Regions from separate parts of the Homo sapiens genome. Here regions 1, 2 and 3 are each linked to region 4. The links come from fine-mapping of genetic effects on gene expression. A gene starts in region 4. Each other region holds a variant in brackets. All regions are shown on one strand. Distances are between the middles of the regions.

What was found. PIP is the estimated chance that this variant, and not a neighbour inherited with it, causes the effect.
Region 1: its variant is the best candidate, but not a certain one, in a credible set for the expression of EIF4E3 in whole blood (TOPMed, PIP 0.89).
Region 2: its variant is the best candidate, but not a certain one, in a credible set for the expression of EIF4E3 in prefrontal cortex (CommonMind, PIP 0.64).
Region 3: its variant is the best candidate, but not a certain one, in a credible set for the expression of EIF4E3 in whole blood (INTERVAL, PIP 0.88).

Annotation. Positions count from the first base shown.
Region 1 is chr3:71,746,870-71,752,020 of GRCh38, forward strand. It overlaps a transcript of EIF4E3 not described here. Among named protein-coding and RNA genes, the nearest start is that of GPR27, 4.4 kb to the right of the region's middle. The variant G/A (reference allele first, on the strand shown) is at 2,460.
Region 2 is chr3:71,765,465-71,770,615 of GRCh38, forward strand. No RefSeq gene overlaps it. Among named protein-coding and RNA genes, the nearest start is that of GPR27, 14 kb to the left of the region's middle. The variant CT/C (reference allele first, on the strand shown) is at 2,058.
Region 3 is chr3:71,701,694-71,706,844 of GRCh38, forward strand. All of the region lies in intron 2 of EIF4E3 (eukaryotic translation initiation factor 4E family member 3), which reads right to left. Among named protein-coding and RNA genes, the nearest start is that of EIF4E3, 21 kb to the right of the region's middle. RefSeq lists an enhancer at 2,083-2,664. The variant G/T (reference allele first, on the strand shown) is at 2,898.
Region 4 is chr3:71,723,398-71,728,548 of GRCh38, forward strand. EIF4E3 (eukaryotic translation initiation factor 4E family member 3) reads right to left here and starts at 2,005. Exons shown (of 7, transcript NM_001134651.2): 1 at 1,795-2,005. The coding sequence starts at 1,970. RefSeq lists silencers at 1,410-1,529, 1,660-1,729.

The DNA.
Region 1 (5,151 bases), 23 kb after region 4:
GGATTTGTACAATATGTGGTCTTTCGTGTTTGACTTCTTTCATTGAGCACAGTATTTTCAAGGTTCATCCACGCTGGAGCATCACATACCAGTACTTGTTATTATGAGTGAATAGTATTCCACTGTAGGGATATATGACATTTTATTTATCCATCCATTCATTCATTGACCTTTGTGTTGCTTTATCCTTTTGGTTATTAGGAATGACGATGTTATGAACATTTACATGTGGGCTTTCATGTGGACATGTTTTCATTTCTCTTGGGTAAATGCCTAGGCGTGAAATGGCTAGGTCATAAGGTAACTCTATGTTTAACTTTTTGAGGAGTTGCCAAATCATTTTCCAAACCAGCTGTATCATTTTCCACCCCCACCAGCATCATCTGAGGGTTCCAATTCCTCCATATCATCACCAACACCTGTTATCATCTACATTTTTGATAATAGCCACTATAGTAGATATGAAGTGGTATCTCAGATGGTTTGAATTGCATTGTCCTATTGACTAATGATGCAAAGTATCTTTCCATGTGCTTATTGGCCATTTACATTTCTTTTTAGAGAAATGCCTATTTAAAGCCTTTGTCCATTTTTAAAATTGGGTTGTCTTTTTTGAGTTATGAGTTCTTTATATACTCTGGATACAAGTCCCCCATCAGACACATTATCTGAAGACATTTTCTCCCATTCTGTAGGCGGGCCTTTCATTTTCTTGATGGTGTCTATTGAAGCACAAACCCTAAAAATTTTAATGAAATCCAATTTATGTATTTTTTTCTTTTGTCACCTATCCTTTTGGGAACATATCCAAGAAACCACTTCCTAATCTAAAGTCATGAAAATTTACTCCTATATTTTCTTCTAAGAGTTGTTATAGTTTTAGCCCTGAGTTTTAGGTCTATCATCAATTTTGAATTTTTTAAAATATATGGGGTGGGGTTGGGGCGCAATTTCATTCTCTTGCATGTGGAGAAAGAAAACCAACTGTTAAAGAGTTTTCACTAAACACATTTTGCTTAAATGAAGTTTAACAATATGCTATACATATACACATAAAGATATTCAGTTATTCATTCAACAAATACAGACAGCAAGCACAATATTTTGAGATATGCAGTGATCATTTTTCTTCCTCTATTTTTCCCTTTCCTTCCCAACATTCAAGTGGATAGCAGGCTCTGGGCTTCCTTGACTAGGAGAGGTTTACGGCAAGGTGGCTTCCCGGCTTTTATTTTTTCCAAACACCTGAATTTGGGGAACACAGCTTCCCAGGGAAATTGATTCCAGTTGACTCTTGAACAACATGGGTTTGAACTGCATGGGTTGGTTTATATGTGATTTTTTTTTTCAATCAAAACAAGATGGTAAATACAGTATTTGAGAGATGTGAAACCTGCATATATGAAGAGCTGACTTCTCATATATATGGGTTCTGCAGGGCTGGCTATGGGACTTCAGTATGCATGGATTTGGGTGCACGCGGAGGCCCTGGAACGAATTCCCTGTTTATACTGAGGGATGACTATAATTACATTGTCCAGAAGAACAAGGAAGAACTGGGTTTTCACCCTCTTCCAGAGTATATAGGGAGTCCCTGGAGATGAAGGTAGGAGGAGGAGAAGAGAAGGGTACTGAGAGAGAGGGGAGCTGCACCCAGTTTCTCAGATATACTGCTGAGAAGAATACCTGTGGATGCATCTAATATCAAATGCATCCTCAGCCCAGATTCTCACACCACAAGTCTGGCACAAGGCAGCCAAGAGTCACCAAACCACGATGGCTTGGAAGAACAGGAACGATATGCCAACAACTGATGAAATATGAGAAGGGACACCCCACACACATGCGCGCACTATCCTGAATGACCATATACTAGGCAATTTAGGCACCTGCCTGAAATTACAGTATATTCTGAGAAAGCAAGGACCCATGATGAAACCCAAGATGCACTAAGGCTACCTCTTTTTTTCCCCACCAGCAAGACAAAATGGCAACACAGAGTCAGAAATTAGGTTTCTAGGAAGCAGCTGCACTTCTTGCACTCTTGATTATATAGACTGACACTCATACTTGCCACATACATATTGAGAACCTACTGTGTACAGGGCATCCTGCTAGGTTAAGCTGAGGTGGGAAATACAAAAGTCAATTAAATCATGGTTAGCCAAGACATTTATATAGTCAGGTAAGAGCAAATATGCATAAGTGTAGTTAACCATTTATTGCACACGACTTGTGTGCACACCTTGTGCTACACTCTTTGTAAATGAATCTCATTTAATTGAATCTTCCCACAATGGGCTTTTGATATTCAGACGTTCAGAGCAGGCAAGAGACTTGCCCAATGAGCCAAAGTCTGGGCTCTTTACAGTTAGGTACAATCTGGTTCATGTACAACTACCACTAATGCACAGCTAGTCAGTGGTGGAAACTGGACATGAACCAGAGTGGTCCTCACC[G/A]CAAGGCCCACTTTCATTGTCAAAGTTATGACTTCGTCCCATGGGGAGGTCAACTTGAGTGCTGCCCTTTGATAATCCAACATCCACTGGGCCTAGACTTTGGCTCACTTTTTCTAAGAGTTGGGATGGAGTTAAGTCAAACCAACCTTCTCTAACTTGGTGTTTAATGTACCTATTGGCAGGTGACTGGCCAGAAGCCTGAGGTTAAACAGGATACACTGGCCAGACTGGACCTCATGATTAGGGAACCCATGACCTTGACTGTATCTGCCAAAGGGTGCCAACCAGTTCCTCTGAACAGTCAGGATTTCTAGTACCATTCACACCATCTATACGTACATCAAAGAAGTGACATAAATGATTTGGGGAGTGGGGGTGGGAAATACTTTTGTTTCTATGTCCAAAAGGAATAATTTGATTATACAAGAATAATGGAAATTTTCTTATAGGAAAAAAATGTCATAGAGCTGTTTTGCTTTGAGATGAAGGCATGCAATTTGGTGCCTAAGAAAGCATTTAAAATTCTTGCCTGCAGCTTCCTAGAAACAGTAAAAGGAAAATACGTTGATCCTGGCCAATGAAATGTGAACAGTTTTTCCTTAAGTATTAATCTACTGAACAAATGTTGATAATGAAAGAAGTAGGCATATAAATGCTGTGAGAGAACCATGATTTATGTATTTTCTACTGCTGCTTCTGCTATTTGAGCCTGGGAAAATGACTAAACCAAATCTCAAGAGCAGCATTTTGCACCGTAGATAGAAACAGAAAACAGAAAATTTTAAGTTATAAGGAATTAATAATGTCTCTTCTTTTGTGTCCTTTTCTGAAAAATAAATCTCTCCCCATTTGGGAGACATAATCACTTAACTTCCATTTCCTTATACCTAAACTCAACTTCAGAGCCCAGGACCCTCAGAAATCATTTGGTCCAACGTCCCATTTCATAAATGGACACATTTGAGATTCCAAGAGGTTAAGTGACTTGTCGAACACCATGTGCTCATTAGAATAAAAAATATGAAGATTTAAAGTGGAAGGTAGTGACCTAGGAGTGGGAGGACCTGGGTTCTCCCTCCCACTCAGCTATTCATGAGCTTCTCTGTTTGTAAAATTCAAGTGTTAGGATTAGATGGTTTTGAAAAATCCTTCCCTCTCGAAAGGGGTTATAATTCTGTGCCCGGGAGCATCAGTAGTTTGTGTATGTTAGTTTACTGCTTTTATAAACTCAAAAGCTTTCTTCACAGTTATAACAAAGAGGCAGTGTTTGTGGAGATCATGAGGATGGACTCTAAACACAGAGTTCCTCAGCTGGGTGTGGTGGCTCACGCCTGTAATCCCAGCACTTTGGGAGGCTGAGGTGGGAGGATCACTTGAGCCCAGGAGTTCTAGACCAGCCTGGGAAACATAGGGAGACCCCATCTCTACAAATAATTGGTTTTTTTTTTTTTTTGAGACGGAGTCTCGCTCTGTTGCCCAGGCTGAAGTGCAGTGACACGATTTCGGCTCACTGCAAGCTCCGCCTCCCGGGTTCATGCCATTCTCCTGCCTCAGCCTCCTGAGTAGCTGGGACTACAGGCGCCTGCCACCATGCCCAGCTAATTTTTTGCATTTTAATAGAGACGGGGTTTCACCGTGTTAGCCAGGATAGTCTCGATCTCCTGACCTCATGATCCACCCGCCTCGGCCTCCCAAAGTGCTGGGATTACAGGTGTGAGCCACCGCATCCGGCCTCTACAAATAATTTTTTAAAAATTAGCGGGGCATGGTGGTATAAGCCTGTGGTCCCAGCTACTCAGGAGGCTGAGATAGGAGGACGGCCTGAGCCTGGGAGGTTGAGGCTGCAGTGAGCCATGATGATGCCACTGACTCCAGCCTAGGTGACAGAGTGAGACCCTGTTTCAAAATAAATAAAGTCAGACTTCCAGCTCTTACACTTACTTGAAAGTAAGTGTAAAGTAAGTGTAAGTGGTGAAAGCGTGAACAAATTAACCCTTCTGCCTCCTCTGCAAAATGAAGACAGTAACAGCACATACCACATCTGGCCATTACAATGATTACATTAAATAACACATGTCGAGAATTTAGCACAATGCTTGGCATACGGCAAGTGCTCAGTAAAAGGTGGCTGCCATTAGTATTACCATAAAGCAACCAGAGTTGGTGAATTTGTGTGGGTTATTAAGAAGGCATTCCCTCCTCTGGGCAGAGGCAGCCCAAGCGCTAAGGGCCACAGCAAGGCAGGATCGAATTCTCTACAGCCATGGGTCTAACTTTAAACAAAGAAATAAGAAACCATTTCCTACCCTCCCTTGCTCAAGTGCTCACTCTCAATTGATAGCCAATGATATGTTTAAGTGTTTGTTTATAATGTAGGGCTTCTAGAAAGCTCTTCCTACTTAGATGGCTGGAATATTGCTGCTCTTTTCCCTTTTCTTCTTTCTGCCTGGAATGAAGAAATGATGGCTGGGGCGTCGGCAGCCTACTGTGATCATGAGGGAAGGGCTAAAAGATTTTCAGAGATTCAGTCCTTGAGCCAATAAATCAATGTCAGCAACTACTGACCTCCAAACTTCTTCTTTCACGAGGAAAATAAACTCATGTACACGTTTTTTGCTACTAGTATCAAACTGCAATTCCTAACCCATACACCCTCCAAAATCTATTTTCTATCAACATACATTTACAGATG
Region 2 (5,151 bases), 42 kb after region 4:
GTGAGCCGAGATTGCGCCACTGTACTCCAGCCTGGCAACAGAACAAGACTCCGTCTCAAAAATAAATAAATAAATAAAAAATAACAAAATGAAGTATAAAGTATAAAAAACATGATGCACTTTTGAAGAGAATGATTCCACTTTTTGGTTAGTAGAGGTGGGAGTGCTTTAACAAAGTTACAACGGTGGCATGATTGTCTCTCTCTAATATGAGGTGACTGCTTTTGGAGGTTATCCAGGGACCCACGTTGGTGGGTCAGCTCTACTATCTTTCCCAATTGCCTTCACTCTCTGCAAAGCAGACAGGTTCATTATTGCATCTCCTTATTGGAGAGGAAGTGGAGTTTTCTTTTAAGTAAATGTGGCAGATCACTTCTGTTCACGTTTCATCGCTAAGAATTTACATTACATGGCCACACTTGGGCAGCTGGTAAATGCAGTCTCCAGTCTCTAGATGTCTAGATGGGTGGTCATGTACCCTGCTAAAACAGAGAGAGAGAGAGAGAGAATATGAGAAGTAATGAATAAATGTGAGAATAAAAGAACTGTGGAAGACAATTAAGAGTCTACCAGTTTTATTAAATATCTTCCATGTAGAAATTTTTCCTCTTCTAACCAGATTCAAAAAAATTAATACAGAATATTCACATTTGCTGTTTAAAGCAAATGTGACTAATTTCAGGCACCATTCAGCTCCTATAAACCAATCACAGCACCACAGTTAGACATAAACTTCTCTAAGTCTCCTATGTTTTGAGTCGCAAAATATTTTCTTTTAAATTTCTATACAGGAGCAAACGTTCATTCACATACACATTCTGGGCCTGAAATATTTTGCTCCTCCATTTCAAACGCCTATTTTGGATTTCAAAAATATATCTCAAGAGCAAATATTTAAGAGTACAGGCTGAAGATGTATTGATAACATACAGAATGTGGCTGGCTGTCTTTTCCATATGAAATAGTGACCAGTGGACCTTGTCAAGAAAGGACAAAATTGATTCACTTCAACACAATACAGAAGGGGTGGAGGTAGGTGGGGCGGTAGAGGTAGAAGACGCTTGGCATCAAGATGATAAATGCTGATGAGACACTGAATGATGGATAGATGAGACTGCTTTACACTCCTTTACTTTTATGTTTAAAAATTTCAATAATACAAAGTTTTTGTTGATTTGCTTGTTTGCTTTTAAGAATGAACCAAATGCATCCCTGCCAGCCTCAGTCTTGTTTGCACGGAAAGACTACATGTGAACTTCTCAGCAATTATTCAACTGTTTAACTTAATAAAGCACAATTGCCCCCAATTTTGCTTGTAAAGCTTTTACATTTCTGCAAAACAATTTTCCATTAGTTATATCACATTTTAATCAAGATGATTAAAATTTAGATTTAAACAGTGTGGAAATGTGTTAGAAGTATACTCTAAAGATGTGAAGTTGGCCGGGTGTGGTGGCTCATACCTGTAATCCCAGCACTTTGGGAGGCTAAGGTGGGAGGATCACTTGAGCCCAGGAGTTCCAGACAAGGCTGGGAGACACATTTCCTCAAAAAAAAAAAAAAAAAAAAAAAAAAAAAAAAAAAAAAAGATGAAGGGCTCAGATTAATTATTAATTCAATCATAAATTAGATGAATAGATGAATATCAGATGAATTATATAGCATCTTTTTTCTTTCTTTTTTTTTTTTTTTTTTGAGACGGAGTCTCACCCCGTCTCCCAGGCTGGAGTGCAGTGGTGCGATCTTTGCTCACTGCCACTTTTGCCTCCTGGGTTCAAGCAATTCTCCTGCCTCAGCCTCCCGAGTAGCACCAAGCCCGGCTAATTTTTGTATTTTTAGTAAAGATGGGGTTTCACTATCTTGGCCAGGCTGGTCTTGAACTCCTGACCTTGTGATCCACCCGCCTCGGCCTCCCAAAGAGTCCTTCATCTTAAACTTTATTTTAAAGAGTGACTATAAAAATTTCTTCCTTGAAACACAGTAAACTATAGAGCTGACAGATAACTGATTTTTTTATTGAATATGTAAATTATATCAAATGTTTTACCCTTCCACTA[CT/C]TTTTTTTTTTTTCTGAGACACAGTCTTGCTCTGTCACCCAAGCTGGAGTGCAGTGGCTTGATCTTGGATCAAGGCAACCTTCACCTCCTGGGTTCAAGCAATTCTTGTGCCTCAGCCTCCTCAGCAGCTGGGATTATAGGCATGCACCAGCACACCTGTAATCCCAGCTACCTGTTTTGCCATGTTGGCCAGGCTGGTCTTGAACTCCTGCCCTCAAGTGATCAGCCTCCCAAAGTGCTGGGATTACAGGTGTGAGCCACTGGCATGCCCAGCCCCATCCACTATTTTGGATACAAAATATTTTGCTTGTTTTTTAGGATACTTATTTTGCAGTGTCACATTTGGAGGTTTTAACTTTTTAAATACTGTCTTTTCAACTTTTTATACTGAAATAAAAACATATTATTATCAAGTGAAGTCAAGCAGACACAAAATAGCTTTAGACTAAAGCAGTAGTTTTCAAAGGGGGACAATTTATCCCCACCTGCAACCTGCAGAGGACACTTGGCAATGTCTAGAGACGTTTTTGGTTGTCGAAACTTGGGGAGTGTTACTGGAACTAGTAGCCAGGCATGCTGCTAAACATCCTACAATGCACAGGAGAGTCCTGCACAACAATAAATTATGTGGCCCAGGGCCAGGAGCAGTGGCTCATGCCTGTAATCCCAGCACTTTGGGAGACTGAGGTGGGCAGATCCCTTGAGGCCAGGAGTTCAAGACCAGCCATGGCCAATATGGTGAAACACTGTCTCTACTAAAAACACAAAAATTAGCCGGGCATGGTGGTGCACGCCTGTAGTCCCAGCTACTCGGGAGGCTGAGGCAGGAGAACCACTTGAACTCAGGAGGCAGAGGTCGCAGTGAGCAGAGATCATGCCACTGCATTCCAGCCTGGTGACAGAGCAAAACTCTGTCTCAAAAAAAAAAAAAAAAAAAAAAAAAAAAAAAAAAAAAAGTGGCCCAGAAAGTCACTAGCGTTGAGATGGAGAAACTCTGGAGTAATGTGAGAGTGCCTGGAACTGTTCACCATGGTTGTCACTCCATGGAGAAGGCCATCGTTTTGCCCAGCTGGCACAACTGCATGAGTCGGCATTCCAGGCTTTATGATGAGGGAATCTCCACAGGGGCACAAGAATGCTTAAATATGCGTTAGCCTCTGCATTTTGTTGCCAGCCATCGTGTTGCCTATACCACAATTTCCTACTTTTTTGCTTTTAATCTTTTATGACAAATATCTATTTTATTGAAATGCTTACCATTCTGATTTATTCAGTTACAGTGTGGTGCAATATTGGGCTTTCTAAAGCACTTAGATGATTTATGGACCCAGCAAAATAGAATGAAATCCTGAGATGTATGCGGAAGGGGCTGGGAGAGGGGAGTGCCTGCTAGGGAGTTTTGAAGCTGGGTCACCCCGGAGGGTGCACTAGAGGATGTGAGAACTCATGAAACCCAGGGAGCTGTGAGGCTAGCCAGGTTGGACTGGGGCCTGCTTCCCTAATCTAATTCTAGGGAACTTCACATGAATTCTTCAAATGGGCTAATTGCTGCTGGGAATTCTCCAGTGGGACCCCTCTGTGTGCTTCCCTCTAGAATGAAAGGGAACTGGTGCTGAGGACCACAGGAACTTTTGAGGGTAAGAAATTCAAAGACACTCAGCTACTATCCTCATTTCTAATTCAACTAGGAAGGTGTCTCATCAAATAGTGTCACTGGGTACCAGTAACCTTTCTATAGGAACACAGTCCTGTATTGGTTCTCAGTGGCTCTCAACTATGGATGTACCTTGCAATTAATCAGGGAGCTTTAAAAAAAATCCTAACACTTAGGCCTCATCCTATAAAAATCAAATCAAAATTTTTCAGAGTGGTGGGTGATGGAAAAAATGGGAACTGTACTTCAAGAACAGCATCATAATTGCATGTCTAATTTTGGGAAATGTGTACTCTGAAAGTACCCTAAAAATATATACACATATGCATATATATATATATATATATATATATATATATATATATATATATGGGGGATAATAAAGTTTATTTAAAGATCATGTTGTTAAAGACTGTCATCTTTGAAATACATTAAAAAATCCTGGAACGAAGATATATCATACAACACAGTGACTACAGTTAATACTGTATACTTGAAAATCACTAAGAGATATTAACTGTTCTCATTGCAAAATAATGATGTGTGAGGTAGTCTATACATTAATTAGCTCAATTTAGCATTCCACAATGTATCCATATTTCAAAACATCATGTTGTATACCATAAATAAATACAATTTTTGTCAATTAAAATTTGTGAAAATGCTGGAAGAAACTGAGTTCTCTTTAACACAAAAGGGAGTGAGAATTAACAACTTTGGGAAAGATATCAGAGACTAATTCTGAGGATATTATCAGAAAGACATAGCAACATGGAGGTGGAAACACCATAAAAGGTTGCTAGTGAATTGCACAGGGACCCTTACTGAATACCAAAAGTGTCTGGTTTTTAAAGTTAAAATGGCCCCCAGCTTTAACCTTCTAAAAATGAAGCTAGAAAAGTGTGGGATGAGGTTTCTAATATTGAAACCAATGAAGAGGAAAATTGGGCTATGTGTTTGATCTATCACTGAACTGACTTTATAAAAGGCTCTAACAAAAGAACTACATTGAAATACTGAGAAGAATAAAGGTTCTCAGTGAGATAGGAGGGTTTATAGGAAATAGTTTCGGCATAAACTTTTCTATGGTTAAAAAAATGTTGCTTCTGATAAAAGGCAAAACAAAGTCAGAAATGATAGTTTTCATGAAAGTCAATGTTTGCAAAGAAATCCGAAGGTCCAGTAGGGTTTGGGCATCATCTTCTAGCATAAGATTTCTTTCTACCTTGGAATGAAGGGAATTCATTCATGATATTTTCAAAGTAGACTGTGGATTTAGTTTTTCTCGTGTAAATTTTCATCTTGCCTTACTTTGTGGAAATTCTGGTCTATGAAGTCCCAGCATGTGTGTGAGACAATCCTAGGAACTGGAAGAAACATCATAGCCTTTTTTTCTTTCTATATATATATATAGGGTCTTGCTCTATCAACCAGGCTGG
Region 3 (5,151 bases), 22 kb before region 4:
ATAATCCTGCTGGGTTGTTCAAGCCTGTTTTGTGTTAAAAAAATAATAAAGCTGAATTAACTGCAAAGGTGGCAATGATGAACTATAAGATCAAATTGAAGGCAAAAAACTACAGGATGACAGATGTATTAATTGAGAATCCACTTTGGCTCCCTTCTACTAAAATGGTGCTAGTGTAGTGAGGAGTTAAAAGCTACTGTATTAACAGTAGCTCCTCAAACACCCATCTGCCTCTATGGAGGTACCTATCCTGTAAATGCTTTGCTATTTGTACAAATAAGATTATTCCAATATTTCAGTTTCTGTGGTGTGAGGGTGGGTAGGCAGGGCTGGAATCTGAATCCAGGCAATTTGATTCCCAAACCTCTGTTCCTAACCACTCAGCTATTTTCTTCGAAGATACTACTATATGTTTTTGACACATCTTTCTCCAATCTTAGCAGCCAAGAATCAGGTCATGAAGCCACAGAAAGAGGGACACATGTTGAAGATATTTTCCCACCAGTAAAATGCCCATAATTCACAAGAGGCTGGTGGTTGTCAACTCCAGCCTGAGAACCTGGTTACGATGTGGCAATGACCTCTGTAGAATTTATGCACAAAATAACATTAAGAGGAAAACCCCTGCCTAAGGTAAAACTAAGAGGACTTTGGTGCTGGCAAACTTCAAGTCTCCTCAAAGGCATCACAAACCAAAGTTCCTGCCGTCATACCCCGGTCAAAGTTGTCAAATCTTGACTTTTTAACCTAGTACTTGAAGCACACTGAAAAAATACAACAAAACACTTCTTCCATTTCAAAGATCAGAAAAACACTAAAGATCATGCTAAGGATTGGAGCTTTAGAAGCTTCTCTTGAAAACAAAAACAGACAACTGATTCTGCTTGGCTTGGCAAATTTGACAGGAAGAGATTACAGCCCAAGAAGATCAGTGATAGACTTAACATATTCATTAAAGCACATATTTGTACGTTTTTGCTGAGCATAAAATAGGAGCAAAATATCCGGTCACACCATTAAAAAAAAAAAAAAAAGCCCTATTTGAAAAGCATGTGTCATTAAACTGGTCTGTTTCCCTGTTGCAAACCTCATCCAATAGGTAGAATATTTGTGAAGTATGTCTGCTGGTGAAATACCTACAGGAAGGAATCTAGCATTACTCAGCTCCTGAAAACCTCTTCCGCCCTTGCAGAAGTGAAAGGTCTGCTACAGCGGAAGCCTGGTAATTCAAGATTATACTCTCTGTAACACATCTTGAAAATGGAAACACTTAAATTTTACTATATATAAAATCTTGCAAATAGATTTCAGAAGCCTTTAGGCTTATAATTAATTCTGTTAGACTTGCAAATCCAAGATTGCAGTAAAAGTAAAACTAAGCACAATGTTTATTAATGATGGTTAAATGCTTTTTTTTCCCAAAAGCCTTGATAATCACCCTAAGACTAGGAGAGGTATAAAAGTTGAACATCATTCATTCAGTCAACATCTGTGACCATCAGTTGTGAACAGAGCACTGTGACGGGTCCTTGGGGAACTTAGCTGAATGCAGGAGGGTCAGCTTTTGACCACAGCAATCCACTCCTTGGGAGGTATGTTCTGGAACACCAATCTGGCACCTCTCCTGGAGAAACTGAGGCAGGGAAGACACCTGTCCAGTGGAGTCTAATACCTGGATTTAAGACCTAGGTTCTCAGCATAACCTTCACAGGTCATGTAGCCCGTGAAACCCACGTTGCCTCCTCTGTATAAGGATACAGCTATTTCACTGGAAAATGTAATGATGAAATGCAAAGTGAAAGCACTTGCTAGGCCTAAGGAAGGAAACAAAGTATGGTTAGACCCATTAATATGCTGACCACTTGATAAATCCCCAATCTGATAGCACTGATTGGAGCAACTATGCCCCACCTTACAGCCTTCTGCCAAATAGATAATCATTCATTACCAAGAAAACTGGCAAATTTCCTCCTCAATTTCCTACTGAAATGTTCTGAAGAAAAAGAATGCACTTGGAAATTCTTCAGAAGAAAAGATGTCATGTGTTGACAGACAACAAAGTGATATGTCTGTTTTGTAAAACAAACCAGAAACAAAACCACCCAGCAAACACACATCAAAAAAAAAAAAAAAAAAAAAAAATTCCAGGATTTATTCCAAGGTTGTGGCATGTGTAGCAAGAGAGTATTTCCAAAAAAACAAAACAAATATTTTTGCTCATTAGGTATTACTAGTTGCCTGGGGCTTCCCACCAACTGAATAAGTGGTATTTATGGGCAGGGCCAATAGGCATCTGAACCGAATAGGCAACTGAAGAGTTTAATGGATGTTTTTAACTCACAGCAGACACAAAGGCTGAAAGCAAAGTGCTTCTGATTTACAAGAGCTAGGTACTTGAGAGAGAAATGGGTTTTCCTTTGAATTCCAAAAAGGGCTTGGCTTAAAGAGAGAGCCCAAGTGTGGAGTTGTGATCATAGAGTAAACGAGATGTGACAGGATGTGAGGGTAATTTCCCACCACATAGAAAGTTAGTAAAAACCAACTCTGAGTTGGGGAGTTAAAAGCTTGGAGAGAGAGGACAGTGGGGTTAAAACCCTGAAAGGATGGGAGAGAGCCCCACCCAAAGATTGGGGATGCCTAGACCAGAGGAGTGTGGAACCTGCTTCCTGGTACAGCCCAAGAGGCTCCAAGACTCCCAGAAAAGGCCCTCATTCCTACAGCGCTGAGCAACATGGCGGTCAGGTCTGAGAACAGCTGTGAAGGCAGGAGGGGTTATTCTGGCCGGGAGGGCCTGCCACAACCTTATAGAGTTCCCCTCATTCTGGTGGGGTCGGGGGAAGGCAGCCAACATTTCCTAAATCTCCAATCTGGAGCTTGAAATTGCTAGAAAGCCTAAG[G/T]ACAACAGGGCCTGGGGTCTGGATGTGTGTGTACATAGCAGGGGTCTTCATAACATGAGGTTACAGCAGGGCCAAAGGTGGTGGGCATGGCCCAAGGTCAGGAGGGGTCAGGGGTATTTCTGCATATGCCTGTTCATATGGAGAAGGAGAAGAGGGTGGTCATTTTTCCCAAAAGAGATTTAAATTAGAAGAGACCCAGTTTCACAGTTGAAGTGACTAAATTACTTTTAATTAACAAGGTCAAGTCTCACCCCACCCAATACACAGACACAACAGCCTCCACTGAGAATGTGGAGGAATACAAGCAATTTAACTTCAGTTATATTTCTTCATAACTGGATTGTAGCTATAGATGTTGATCCTATTATGCATATAATGAATAAACTAAATGATGGATAAAGAATCTTGTTATACTGGATGCAAAGTCTGTGCTAGACAGAACTATGAAGTGGACCTGGCTGCAGGTCCTTCTCTTTCTCTTTTCAGTGTTGGCTTTCCTCCTCTCTCCCCTCAGGCCCCTCCCTTCAGCCAAGTGGTTCACTCCAGGTCATTCTATTGCAGGACACCACACACCATGGGCTGTCTTGCTGTGTCCAGGGCAGCAAGTACTTGGAATCAATCTTTCCACCATCCTCCATGATCAATACTGACCTAGAAAACCTCTTCTTCTGAAGGAAGAGCCCTCATTTCCCAAGGGTTTGGAAAGCAATCTGCTGCCCTAACTTAACTGCACAACTCCAGTCAGGCGGCTTGACCTGCGGATATGAAGTCTTGATATTATCGACAGCACACAGGATAGGTTTGGCATATGCAGGGGAAACATTTTCTTAATTTCAATAGGTTATATATACTCTTTAGGAAGACTTTCTGCTTATGATAAACGATGCTGAATTTCCACTTATAGAGGAAATATGGTTTCTGTTTTATGCAAATTTAAATAAGAAGTCAAGTTATAAGAAATACTGGGTAGAATGTACCACAAGTGAGATAGGTGTGGCAAAATCTTTAAGGCGATACACCAAATAACTGATGTTCGAGACAGAGTGCTGTACAGGAATGAGTTTTCAGGGGTGGAATTTTTAGTCTTGTAGCAGATAAGGCTGAAAGAAACTGGAGAAGGGAGACTTCTCTTGCAAATCACAAATGGCAGGTAGCTCTTCATTCTCCAACAGGTAAAACAGGGCTTGTTCAAAAGCCGTGTTCTATTTTTTTTTCTCCCAGAGATGTGGGTCTTGCCATGTTTCCCAGGCTGAACTCGAACTCTTGGGCTCACGCAATCCTCCCACCTCAGCTTCCTGAGTAGCTGAGATCACAGGCATGAGCCAATGCACCCGGCTAAAAGCCATTTTCTATTCTGCACTGCAACCACTGAGGATGCAAAATCACAAGAGAAATGTGGAAAATTTGGACAGGTTCACAAAGGAGTAAGAGAATCAATAAGCATCTGGAAAATACGCCTAGATGTAAAATGGAATTTTCCAAGAAAGTTAGGAAAGTAGAAATGAATTTAACTCCAGGCAGAGAGAATTATTGTTAGGTGTGATGAAAGTGTCCTCAGCAGGGGTTCCCAGGTCCTTTGGAGGCTGAGTCTCCTCCACTCCTCAATCACGGGGAGTAAAAGAAAGAGAATTGGACTGGGAGGGAATTCTAGTCCTAGAGGCAAGGCATGACTGGCTCTTTCCAATCATGGAATGTTTGGGCCTCTTACCTCCAGCCTCAGTCTCCTCAACTAATAGACGGGGTAACGATTCCTCTCCCAAACCATCTACTTTGATTTGCTAAAGGGCCTCAAAGTATAAAAAGACTCATATGTCTTTAATAAGACAATCATTAATATCACATGATTTTTACCTTTCATCTAAACACATATGGGAGGAAAACACAGACATAATTGGAGAAGCAGTTTTTTTTAGTGCTAATGGAGTGAGAGTAAAAGGATCAACGTACAGGCCAAAGTGGTTCATGCCTGTAATCTGAGCACTTTGGGAGGTCAAGGAGGGAACACAGCTTGAGGTCAGAAATTCGAGACTAGCCTGAGCAACATAGCAAGACCCCATCTCTACAAAAAAAATAAAATAATTTAGCTGGGTGTGGTAGCACATGGCTATAGTCCCAGATACTTGGGAGGAGGCTGGGGTGGGAGGATCTCTTGAGACCAGGAGTTTGAGGCTGCAGTGAGCTATAATAGCACCACTGCACTCCTGCCTGGGTGACAAAGTGAGACCCTGTTTCTGAAGAAAAAAAAATTAATATA
Region 4 (5,151 bases):
TTAAAGATCTGGACACTGTGGCAATAATGTATTTCATTTGATGATCGACCTTTAGAGAACAAAAATGTGTAAATCAATAGTATAGATATAGTTTTTGTCTTCATTAAAGTTACTATAATCTTAAGCTACTAGTCTTAAAAGATTGTGTTATCTGTAGTATTGACATTTTAGACCAGTCCTTAAAAGTGTTGTTCCTACATGTAAACTAATTTTAGACCTGTTTAAAAAGAAACTCTCTTGATACTGTTTCCACCAGTCAGCAGTATTCACAATTTAGACCACAGGTCCAGGTTTAACACCTTGAAAACAGATACCAGGTAACAATAGCACAGTTGCAGCACACCTATGAAAACAGACACGATTTCATTCTGCTAAGGTCTGCCAAAAGCACGCTTGTTATGACAGTATAATGCTCTCTTAGCATCCCATAATGAAAGTGAAAATGTTTTGAAAGAACGAAACTCACTCCATCTCCCCCACCCCCAACTTTTTTGGGTCTCCGGCAAAGAAAATGGCAGCAAGTGACAATTCTTATAGACGGGTGCTATAAGAACCCAAAAGGAAAAAAGAAATGAGCTTGTCTTAACCAAAAAAAAAATGAATATCACTTTTTTAAAACAAAATCTTGCAGTCATTTTATGCAAAGCCTTTTAAAACCAGATTTGTGTGTACCAAGCAAACTTCTCAGAACACTGTCACACATTTCTTCCTAACACTTAGCCAGAATAGACACGGTTTCATCAAAATTTCCAAATGCTCTTGGGACAACCTTGAGGTGTCATCATTGGGCACCCACTGCAGGGCAGACACTAAGAAGGGGCTTTGCATTCATCCATCTATTCATTCATAACAATTTCTGGTGTTCTTACTAGGGACCAGGCACAGTTCTAGGTCCAAAATGTCCAAAAACAAAAATCCACTGCTCTTTTATCCTTAACTGAGGGGAGGTGTTGAGGAGCTGGGGAGACAGACTGAAAGTAAACAAATTCATATATAATAAAATCCAGCTGCATTAAGCATTAGGAAGAAAAAGAAGGCAGGGCAGGAGAATACAAAACGAGGGAGCAAGGTTTCTATTTTAGATACGGTAGTCAGGGGGTCTTTCTGAAAAGATGGCACCTGGGTTGTCCCTTGAGAAAGCCATAATTCACCCCCTTCCTGACAAGGTCAGCTGCTGCTCATTATTGAATCTCCAGCGCATAGCAGGTGTGTGGCTCCACTGTAGGTGTTCAGGAAATACCTGCCCAGTGGATGAGGAAGAACTGGAAGAGGAGTCCACGGCAGCAGCGGCCGGACACGGGGTGGGAGCGCCCGCCGTGCAATAATCATTGCACCACCGCACACCTCCCAAGGGATGGGCAACTTTTCCGAGCGCTGTCACAGCTGAGGTCGTGTCCTGAGCTCCCAGGCGCCCCGCGGGGTAAGCAGGACAGCCCTCTCCCTGCAGCAGGGACGCGGCCACCCCCAGCTCGCCTACCCTCTCCCACGGCCCTGCCAGCACGCCGCGTTCCGATCGGAAGGGAACAAGGGGTAGAAAGTGTTGCCGAAACTTTTCGGGCTGCGCTGTCCTCCCCCGGCCCGGAGGCGAGGACGCCGAACAGCCGCCCGGCGCGGCCCGAAGCTGGCTTCCGACCCGGCGGGGCGAGTCCCGGGGTGCGCAGGCGGACGCGCGGAGGGGCCGAGGTCTGTGCCACAGCGGAGCGGGGCCGGGGCGAGGGGCCGCGCCGAGACAAAGCGGCGGTGGCGGCAGGACCCGGGTCGGGGCCGTGCGCGGCGGGCCCCGCGCCCCCTCACCTGTCGAGCCAGAAGGTCCAGGACGAGTGCAGCGGGACCCCGCCCGGCTCAGGCTGCAGCGCCGACAGCTGCTGCAGGCCGAGCGGCGGCTCGGGGGCGGCGGCAGCGGCGGCGGCGCGGGACCCCGGCGGCTCCCGGGCCCCGGCGGGGGGCGCGGCGGCCGGGGGCAGCGCCATTTTCTCCGCCCCGCCTGCAAGGCCGGCGGACGCGCGGACCGCGGGGCGAGCGCGGCTGAGTCACCCCCGGCCCCCGCCCCGCCCCGCCCCGCGCGCCCCGCCCCGCCCCGGGCTAGCCGCCCGCCGCCCGCCGCCCGCCGCCCGCCGCCTTCAGGGCCTGGGAGCCGCGCGGAGGGGCCGTGGGAGGCACGGCCGGGCCGGGGCCGCCGAACAAAGACAGACCCACGGAGGGATGGGGGGCCGATCCCGCTCAGGCGCGGGCCCAGCGTGGGAGACTGACGGCCTGGCCTGGAGTGGCGGCCGGGGACGGGCTAGAGGGCCCACGGGGGTGAGAGGGACCGGGGAACGGTCTGCGGGCTGGCTCTGCAGCCATGCAAAAGGGCAGCGGGATGGAGCGGCAGGCTAGGGACAGATGGAGGGATGGATGGGACAGGGGATGGAGCCCCAGACCCACGTGGTGCGAGGGAAGGAGGGATGGACAGACATACCAGCAGTCAGAAGGATGGAGTGAAGGCTGGCAGATGGCTGGAGGAGAGAAGGAGGGATGGAGGGCAGATGGAAGCACAGTTGGGTGTGACAGATAAATGGAGAGGGGAACCGATGGCCAAATGGATAAAGAGACTCCAGTGCCCGCGAGTACAGAACAAAGGGCGAGAAAGAAGAACGAACAAGAGAACCACCGACTGGGGCATGAGGTTGGAGCAGGTGGGCTTTGCATTCCTCTTGGTGAGAGCATACTTCCTAACTCCGCTGATTTGAAGGGGCCAGAGCCCCCATCCCAACCTCTGGAGCTACCATGTGACCACAGTGAAGGCCTCAAGCCTGGCTTAACGTGTGGCTAACTTCAGAGAACATTTCCCAAAATCAGCCAAAGTATCCAGATCTGCCCTAAAGCACCGGCGAGTCGGGAGGAGGAAAGCGGGCACCTGTGAACACAGAGCGCTCTGCTTCCTGTACCTCTGAGCACCCAGGAAGTCCCTTAGGCGGTGAGATTCCTGAGCCCAAAGTAGGAGGGGCCCTCCTAACACAGCATCTCCCCAGGTCTCTGTCACTTTCTTTTTCAAAAGAAAAGCAAAGGCATGAGGCCTGTGAACACACATGTCACAACCAGCATGGACATCCTCTTTACACTTGAATTTCTAGATAGTTCCTCTCTGGCTTTGAACAGTGAAGGGCGTGGGATGCCATCTCCTCATTGACCTTCTACCTGGCCTAGCATGTGTTCTGTTCATGCCTTGAGCATTCGCTGGGATGGAAGAGCTACAAAACAAGATGAGTTCAGGGGCATCAACAGCATCATAGCAGACTGTCATGAATCCCAGAGTAGATGCCCTCCCTAAAAGGTAATCAAGGTCACATAAAGTGACAATAATAAAAACAAGACCGCTGCTTTAAACTTAACTTCTATACAACATACAATGCTGGAAGCAATGACAGATTTTATAAAATCTGTCCAACACTAAAACAGGGGAGGGTGCTTTTGGTTAGATGCATTTATCTTGTTGCTTAATATCTCCTTTCATTTTTCCAAGAAGCGTGGTATATGGCATTGTTTAAACTGCTCTGAGCACTTTACCCGTAATAACTCATTTAATCCTTACAATAAGCCAATGAGGAAGATACTATTAACCCATTTTACAGATGAGGAACAGAGATAAGATTAAGATAACCCCAAGGTCACAGAGCTAGTAAGTGGGACAGCTGGGATTTGAACATAGGTATTCAGACTCCAGAGTCTAGACTTTCAACTGCCAGACTCTCCTACCTCTCTACACAGAACACTAACAAGTCCACAACGTAAAAACAAGCTGTGAATAGTAGGTCTCCCTCCCTCCCAAGACTATCAATCTTCATTCCCAGAGGAAACCACTGGCAACAGTTTCCTTCCAGAAAAATGCAAGTATGCACATGCAAGCATATATCTAGATTCATAAGTTATAAATCTATATCTTTTTTATAACCAAAATGGAAGCATTTAATACCAATGCTGTACCTTCTTATTTCACTTAACATTATATCCTTGAAGATTTTTCCATATCAAAACATATAGATCTACTTTATCTTAAGGGCTGCAAAGTAATTCATTGTAAAGAGGTAATATAATTTAATTCACTAGCCTCCAACATTTATGTGGTTTCTAGACATTTTCTTATATAAATAATGCTACCATAAGTATTTTTATATTTATGGCTTTCTTCATCTACACAAGCTAATCTCAGAATAAGTTTGGAGAAGAATTGTTGGCTGCATTTAAAAATTTGATACATATTGCCAAATTGCTTTGCAAAGTGGTTACATGAATTTATATATAGCTGATATATAAATAATGGTTGATTCTGAAAATTTATATTTACGAAGTGACACATATCTGTATAAAATTCCAAGGCATGGGTAGAAAGGAAGTTTTGCTTTCTAATGATTAAAGCTAGTCAAACTGTCAAGTTTAGCTCCTTCCTTATGTCCTTTAACAATATCCTCAGCAAAAAAGGGCTAGTCAAGAATTTTTATCTGCAGTTTCTGTAAAAGGATTGTGTACCACATGAAAAAATTCCCTCCAGAATTTAGAACTAGGAACAGTCTGGCAGTTTTTCTTTACTGAATAGCAATTATATACCTTTCTCTCTTTTTGCTTTGGCTTCCAGGCTGCTCATAATTACATTTGGTGCTCAATCACAGCACCAATATTAGCCAATGAAGAAGCATCACTATTTTTATATTTATTCCTATTTCTATTTTAAAGACCTAATAGCATATATGCACCTTACACTGAACCCCTCAAATTTATTTTGGAAGTAGGTGGTATATATGAATAGATAAAATTTAAATGACCTTAAGATTAATAAAAGAGATTATACAAAATGGCTAAGGAGGGAACAATGGTCACAACTTTCATTCCCTTCCTGTTTGAAATATGTAAGAGACTTAATTATTTTTATTGCTCTTCAGAATCATTCTTAGAAGATAATAAATTGGGGAAATTTCCCTCATCTGGGAACTGGATGGCAGGAACTAGAATTTCAAGGTAGAAAGGGGATTCAGCGATCATCTAAGCAAACCCATCACTTTACAAATGAGGAAACTGAGGCCCAGAGAGGTGAGGTGACTTACCCGAGGCCACAGCTCTAGGAAATGACAGAGGCGGGACTAGAACGTGGGTAGCTTGAGGTCCGGACCAACGTGC